Linked DNA regions of Homo sapiens. The protein of the gene in region 1 interacts with the protein of each later gene in a biochemical or structural test. Each region holds a gene or a part of one and is shown on either strand. Other genes may lie near its edges.

Evidence for each region.
Region 2: the proteins of PSMA3 (region 1) and UBD form a complex in vitro, tested with the Homo sapiens proteins (one study listed by BioGRID).

Annotation. Positions count from the first base shown.
Region 1 is NC_000014.9:58,254,843-58,258,659, reverse strand, and holds part of PSMA3 (proteasome subunit alpha type-3), read right to left. Parts: intron 916-3,817; coding exon 814-915; intron 736-813; coding exon 662-735; intron 1-661. UniProt on the Homo sapiens protein: Component of the 20S core proteasome complex involved in the proteolytic degradation of most intracellular proteins. This complex plays numerous essential roles within the cell by associating with different regulatory particles.
Region 2 is NC_000006.12:29,556,754-29,561,294, forward strand, and holds the start of UBD (ubiquitin D), read right to left. Parts: upstream 2,980-4,541; 5' UTR 2,949-2,979; coding exon 2,922-2,948; intron 1,021-2,921; exon of another isoform or gene 1-1,020. UniProt on the Homo sapiens protein: Ubiquitin-like protein modifier which can be covalently attached to target proteins and subsequently leads to their degradation by the 26S proteasome, in a NUB1-dependent manner.

The DNA.
Region 1 (3,817 bases):
CCCACAATAAAATATCAGCACTTCAACAGAAAGAGAAACCGTGCCTAATGGGAATTGTGAGACGTAATTTTTAAAATTACCTAAGAATATCAGGGACTAACACCGAGAGCTTATTATAATCAGATTAAAGTCATTGTTATCAGTTCCTTGTTTTATAATCACTTCAGATCTATATAGTCCTTTTCACTATTGAAACCTTTTTTTTTTTTTTTTTTTTTTTTTTAAAGAGGCAGAGTCTCTATTGCGCCAGCTAGAGTACAGTGGTATGGCCACAGCTCATTCCAGCCTTCAACTCCTGGGCTCAAATGATCCTCTCAAGCAGCTCCTAAGTAGCTGTGACTACAGGCATGTGATACTGCACCTGGCTAAATTTTAAATTTTTTTTGTAGAGATAGGTTCTCACTGCGTTGGCCAGGCTGGTCTCATACTCCTGGGCGCGAGGGATCCTCCCACCTCAACCTCCCAAAGTACTGGGATTACAGGCTTGAGCCATGGCACCCAGCCTCAAGTAGTTTCTATGTACACTGTTTTATTTAATCATTGCCCTAATACTTATCGACGAGTTTCTATTTTTAAGTATGTAAAAGGCTAAGATGCTGGGGAACATAATAAATATCTATAGTACAGATCTGCCTTTTGAATAATTCACAAAATTTCTTACCTGCAGCCAAAAGGTCTAACAGCACTGTAGAGTGTATATGCATGCACATACATGGCCACTCTGTCTGCAAGATGCTATGGAGGGAAGCAGAAGAGCTTATTAATAAACTTCTATTACTGTCCAAAAGGTTCCTCAATATGTTATCAACTTACTTTTAGTGGAATGTTGTAGCCAAAGTTAGATCTGAAGTTGGAAGCTTCTTCTCTTGCTATGTCTGCTAAAGAACGAGCATCTGCCAACAAACCTGCTACTGCCTGAAAAAAAAGCACCAATTTACTAGAGGAACACATTCCTATCACAAATCAAAGTCTGCAATTAATAAAGACTTATTAAACATTTTTTTAACAAGTATTACCATTCAAAATAAACTTTTTTGGCTTAAAGGTCTCTCTACAAGGCATTTTGATGCTTGAGTATGAAATTATAATTTAGAAATTTAGTAAGTATAACTTCATTGCTTTGTCCAATGTTCATATTCAGGACATTTCCTTTTTTTTTTTTGATACGGGGTCTCGCTCTGTCACCAGGGCTGGAGTACAGTGGCATGATCTCCGCTCACTTCACACTCTGCCTCCTGGGTTCATGCCATTCTCCTGCCTCAGCCTCCTGAGTAGCTGGGACTACAGGCGCCTGCCACCACGCCCGGCTAATTTTTTTGTATTTTTAGTAGAGATGGGGTTTCACCATGTCAGCCAGGACGGTCTTGATCTCCTGACCTCGTGATCTGCCTGCCTCAGCCTCCTAAAGTGCTGGGATTACAGGCGTGAGCCACCGTGCCCGGCCAATATTCAGGACTACTTCTATCATAAATCCTCTTCCCCTGATTTACTACCACTACCTCATTATAACGAATAAAAACCATGGGTCTTGGTCAGATTTTTTTTTTTTTTTTTTTTTGAGACAGAGTCTCACTGTGTCACCTAGGCTGGAGCACAATGGCACCATCTGGGCTCACTTCAACCTTTGCCTCTCAGGTTCAAGGGATTCTCCTGCCTCAGCCTCCCCAGTAGCTGGGATTGGCTAATTTTTATATTTTTAGTAGAGACAGGGTTTGGTTTTGTCATGTTGGCCAGGCTGGTCTTGAACTCCTGACCTCAGGTGATCAGCCTGCCTCAGCCTCCCAAAATGTTGGGATTATGGGTGTGAGCCGCCGTGCCCGGCCCAAATTTGTTCTTTTCTCTAAAGTTATTACAGGTTGAGGATATCTAATCCAAAAATCTGAAATTTAAAACGCTTCAGAATCTGAAACTTTTTGAGTGCCAACATGACACTCAAAGGAAATGCTCAGGCCGGACCTGGTGGCTCACACCTGTAATCCCAGCACTTTGGGAGGCTGAGGCAGGTGGATCACAAGGTCACGAGTTCAAGACCAGCCTGGCCAAGATGGTGAAATGCCGTCTCTACTAAAAATACAAAAATTAGCCAGGCGTGGTTGCAGGCACCTGTAATCCCAGTTACTTGGGAGGCCGAGGCAGAGAATTGCTTGAACCTGGGAGGCGGAAGTTGCAGTGAGCCGAGATCGCGCCACTGCACTCCATCCTGGGCAACAGAGCGAGACTCCATCTCAAAAAAAAAAAAAAAAGGAAATGCTCAGTAGAGCTTTTTGGATTTTGAATTTTCAGATTAAGGATGCTCAGCTGATGAGTATATAATGCAGATATTCCAAAATCGAAAAATATCCGATATACTGCTGGTCCCAAGCATTTTAGACGAGAGATACTCAACCTGTAACTGTTTTGTTCTAAAAGGCACAATCGCAAATCTTTTTTCAGCCTATTGGCTGAATAAACTACAATGATAAACCATTCCTCTTTCAAGATTTGCGGCTTAGAACTGCAGTTACTAGGCCGGGCACGGTGGCTCATGCCTGTGATCCCAGCACTTTGGGAGGCCGAGGCAGGGGGATCACCTGAGGTCAGGAGTTTGAAACCAGCCTGGACAACATGGTGAAACCCCTACTAAAAATACAAAAATTAGTCAGGTTTGGTGGCGGGCACCTATAATCCTACCTACTCCCAAGGCTGAGCCACAAGAATCACTTGAACTCGGGAGGCGGAGGCTGCAGTGAGCCGAGATCACGCCACTACACTCCAGCCTGAGCAACAGAATGAGACTTTGTCTCAAAACAAAAACAAAAACAAAAACAGAATTGCAGTTACTATGTATGTGCCGAGAGGTCCTCAGGCACTGCAGTGAAATCACATGTTAGTGTGGCATATCTTTTTTTTTGAGATGGAGTTTTGCTCTTGTTGCCCAGGCTAGAGCACAGTGGTGCAATCGCGGCTCACCGCAACCTCCACCTCCCAGGTTCAAGGGATTCTCCTGCCTCAGCCTCCCGAGTAGCTGGGAGTACAGGCATGCGCCACCACGCCCGGCTAATTTTTGTGTTTTTAGTAGAGACAGGGTTTCTCCATGTTGGTCAGGCTGGTCTTGAACTTTCGACCTCAGGTGATCCGCCCGCCTTGGCCTCCGAAAGTGCTGGGATTACAGGTGTGAGCCACTGCACCTGGCCTAGTGTGGCACATTCTAAGTTTGGAGAAAAATGTCCAAGTAGTTCCGTTTGAACATTAGATCGTTTTACTACATTCCTTTCAATGCCACCACATCTTTGAGAAGCTTGGCTGTTAGTGGTTGCTGTGAAAAAAAGTAAGTACTGTGCAAAAATCAGTGTGGAACAGGAAATGACAGTGGCCACATCCAAATTTGGGAGGTTGTGCAGTGTATATACTAGAAATTTTGGTTGCTTAAAATAAAACATTTTAATTTTTAAATAAAAATATTTTTCACTATGTGTGTATTTAAAAAAAAAAAACGGCTACTAAGTTTTTAGGATGTAAACACTAAGTTCTTTGGATCTAAATACTTAATAAATGAAACCATTAGGTATTTTCGGCCTAGGGAAGCCATGAGAAAAACTACTGAGACACTTAAGGTACCATAAACCAACCAAGTTTTTGAAACCCTCTAGCCCAGGACAGTTACAGAATTTAAAAGTGGTATCACAATCTTTAATAGCCTTTTTTTCCTACGCTACCCAGTAATAGTAATAATGATAATTACTAAGAGATACTGAGCACTCATTACATGTTAAGCATTTTGCATAATAATTTTTAACCTCACAACAACTGTATGTGCCAAGTACTATTATCACTCTTG
Region 2 (4,541 bases), on another chromosome or scaffold:
CGAGACCAGCCTGGTGAACTTGGTGAAACTCTGTCTCTACTAAAAATACAAAAATTAGCCAGTAGTGGTGGCAAGTCCCTGTAATCCCAGCTACTCAGGAGGCTGAGGCAGGAGAATCATTTGAATCCAGGAGGCAGAGGTTGCAGTGAGTGGAGATGGCACTACTGCACTCCAGCCAGGGCAACAGAGTGAGACTCTGTCTCAAAAATATAAATAAATAAAACATTCAGTCATGATGGAACAGGAGGTTGGATATGCCTCATTGTATCTTCTCCCTTTTGCAGTTTAGACACAACTGACCAGCAAAGTTAGAGATTATAAGACTGAGAGAATGGATTCTTTGTGGCAATAAGATAGCAAATTATAAACAAGACCGAGGGCTATAACAGGCAAAAGTTAAGTCATGCATCCCTTACACTTAAAGAATAAACTATGTTCTGCCACAAAGTTTTTTCTTTTTTCTCTAGCAGCTAAACAAGCACTGGCCTTGACAGGAACAATATTAAAACAATTACAGCTCACCCTGTGTTGGGGAACACAGGCTAACTGACCCCGTGTTCCACAAGCCATAACTACAGTTTTAATTGGACAAAAGACTGATTTCAGTAATTTTCTCCTGATAAGAGACCACTGACCATGGACTGGTTCTGGCTAGTTTACAGAAGCTGTGCATTTGAATGCCTTTGTGTCCCTGCTTCACCTTTTCATGTATAAGGCCTAACTGTAATGCAATTAAATGTTAAGTCTCCACTTCAGAGTGACCATGGGTGGTATGTAACATGCAAGCTTATTCAATATGCATGCATTAGGACCCCCTCCATGAATATTCATTGCCTCTGCTATAACCTATTGGATATGTATACTTAGCAAACCCCTTCAGCATAAATTCCTGTGTCACCTTTCCTCCTGCAAAGTGCTTGCTTTTGGTTTTCAATCAGAAGCAAAACTTCCCAGCCTGTCAGAATGGCTACCTTGCAGACTATAACCTTTCATAAGAAATAAACTCCCCTTCTAAATTTATGAATTGTGTGATTTTTTTTAGTTGACAATCTTTACATTTCGTTTTTCTGTGCATTTCAATGGATGTAAAAAACATACCTTTATCCATCTCAAAATGTAATTAGTGATTTTCCACCTTATTTACCTGCCTCTCCTATCCAGATAAAGTTTGTCAAATGTCAACAAGTAAATACGAGGCTTCAAAAGATGTACATCAGACTCTAAAAACAACTCTCAAAGAGAATTTCCAAAATATGACAGCCTCATGAAGATACTCATAGCCATAGGATACCCTCTGTCAATACTTCAGAAGGAAATCCTGGGTAGGACACATAATCACTGAACTGTTAGTTTCTTTTCAAATATCCCACTGCTTTATAATAATAACTCACATACTACCGTGACACTATGTTCAGTGTTTCTTGTTAATTTATATTTCTTGTGTTTTTATTTCTATCTAATGAGAGACAGGACTAGCTGGATTTCCTAGGCCGACTAAGAATCCCTAAGCCTAGCTGGGGAGGTGACTGCATCCACCTTTAAACACGGGGCTTGCAACTTAGCTCACACCTGACCAATCAGGTAGTAAAGAGAGCTCACTAAAATGCTAATTAGGCAAAAACAGGAGGTAAAGATATAGCCAATCATCTATTGCCTGAGATCACAGCGGGAGGGACAATGATCGGGATATAAACACAGGCATTCGAGCCAGCAACGCTACCCTCTTTGGGTCCCCTCCCTTTGTATGGGAGCTCTGTCTTCACTCTACTAAATCTTGCAACTGCACTCTTCTGGTCTATGTTTCTTACGGCTCGAGGTGAGCTTTCGCTTGCCATCCACCACTGCCGTTTGCCACCGTCGCAGACCCGCGGCTGACTTCCATCCCTCGGATCTGGCAGGGTGTCCGCTGTGCTTCTGAACCAGTGAGGCGCCCATTGCCGCTCCTGATTGGGCTAAAGGCGTACCATTGTTCTGCACGGCTAAGTGCCCAGGTTCTTCCTAATCGAGCTGAACACTAGTCACTGGGTCCACGGTTCTCTTCCGTGACCCATGGCTTCTAATAGAGCTGTAACAACCACCACATGACCCAAGATTCCATTCCTTGGAATCCATGAGGCCAAGAACCCCAGGTCAGAGAACACGAGGCTTGCCACCATCTTGGAAGCGGCCTGCGGCCATTTTGGAAGCAGCCCACCACCATCTTGAGAGCTCTGGGAGCAAAGACCCCCTGGTAACACTAATATAGAATGTGATCTCCTTTGATAAGACTAGGGCCTCACTCACAGAAGGTAGGGACTATATCTAAGTCTTACTTCAATAGCTGGAAAATCCTAAAAGATGGGAAAACTCACCCCTAATGGCCACTTGAAAGCCTGAGAAGACCTCCCTCATACTCCATTCAGAAATATTTTCCCAATCTAGATATTGCAGACATTTCTTCACTGGAAGATCTGTGTTAAGCATTGCCTTAATTCCAGGTTCTCTCCATAGTGCATATTTTCTTATATAATGTAATGTGTTAGATCATTAACAACTTCAGATGAATGAGTTTTGTGAAGCTCTCCTTTGAGAGGAGAGGGAAGATTAAGTTTAAGAACCTTAAAAAATGTTACCATAATTTCAAATCTCACCAGCCCTGTGGAACACAAAGCTCACCCCCACTTTTTCTTCTACCATTTATCCCTAAGAGTAGCTAGTCCAATGTTTTATTTAAAAAAGAACACAGAAGCCAGATAACCAGCTTCTCTTCAGACAATCCCTCTTCCCATTCTGCAAATGTCAATGCCAGCCTCTTCTCCTGAAGGATGCCTGCCCAGCCCCCCAGAGCCCTGAGTACTGCCCAGCCCCCGTTTCTAAGATCTCTCCCCAACTCTTGAAAGTGCTTTTCCTTTCCCCATCCCCTTTATCAAATCCCAACTTACACAGAGGCAGGAAGCATTGGGAGCCATCTCTGCAGACAAGGGGCCAGAAACCAGAGACAGAAAAAGGACTTTGCATGCAGCTTATATACCAGAGTTGAGTTGGAAATCCCCTGCCTGGATTGCTGTGTTTGTCCAGCTTTGCTGTGCTCTTTGTTCTTGCATGCTCCCATGAATTTTCTTTCACTTTTGCTGGGCAGGAGTTAATAGACAAAGAATGCTTTCTGATCACATACTTCTCTCCTCAAGCAATCTATTTGCAAACCTCATTCCAAACATGGGATGGTCTTTCTGTGTTGAAAACTTTTCCCTTTTCTCAGGAAAGATCTTTGTCTGTTGAAGCCACCTGGATCTATACCCACAGCCCAAACCTAAGCTGCAGATCTCTATGTCTAGCTGTGTCTGTGTCTATGGGAATTCTCGTTCCTTGAATTCCCGGCATATCCTTGAACACCCCAATCTCTCTGCCATCTCCACGCCACTGAGCATGCCTTTTCCTCCAACTCTATCCCCACCACCATGAATTTATAAGAACACACGGTGTAAACAGTATCTTCGTCAAAAAGCCTTCCCTAACTCTTTTCCTCCCCATCCTGGGTTATGTGTCCATCTTCTATCCTCTACACTTCCTTCAAATGCCTCTCAGAGCATGTTTCTTCAACAATAGCATCGTCTGCTTGTCTGTAATCTTTAGAAAAGAGTAGGAATCTTGGGGGTCGTGATTGTGTCTTAATTAACTTGTATCTTTAGCACTGTTCCAGCATGCTGTCAGGCACAGGAAATAATTTATAAATGTTTACTAAATGCACAAATGAATTAATAAATGAATGAAAAGTAAGTAAATAACAAAAAAAGGAAAAGTAATATTTGGTGAGTACTTAAATTTCAAGAACTGCACAACATATTATTAAATGTTACCTTATTTACTGTTTCAGCATTTTAATGAAGTAAGTACAGGTGCTCCTTCACTTATGATGGGGTTACATCCCTGTAAACCCATTGTACACTGAAAATATCCAAAATCAGAAATGCATTTAATACACCTAACCCACCAAACATCATAGCTTAACCTAACCTGCCTTAAACATGCTCAGAACACTTACATTAGCATACAGTTGGACAAAATTATCTAACAAAAAGTGTATTTACTACTGAAGTGTGAAATATCTCATTTAAGTTATTAAATACTGTACTGAAAGTGAAAAGCAGATGATTTTATGGGAACTTGAAGTAGGTTTCTACTGAGTATGTATTGCTTTGGTATCACTATTAAATAAAAAATCATAAATGGAATCATTGTAAGGAACCACCTCTATTAGTATCCCCGTTAATAAGTAAGAAGCTACCTCATCCACAATCATATTAGTAGTAGCTGGTAAGCAAGGGTTCAAACACTAATCTGTATTTCTATAGTCCTTGTATTCTTCCTATATTATTATGTTATTTCAGTGGGAAAAGGCAGGGAGAAAAGTGCTACTGGAGTTGGGTATTTCCAGCATGGGGTTACTGTGAGGGCAAATCTAATATACTCTCAGAAAAAACTAATTCAGGGGATTCCCTACCCAGAGATGACCTGGATTCTGGGAAATAGTGCCCTTTCAAGAAAACATATGAACAACAAAC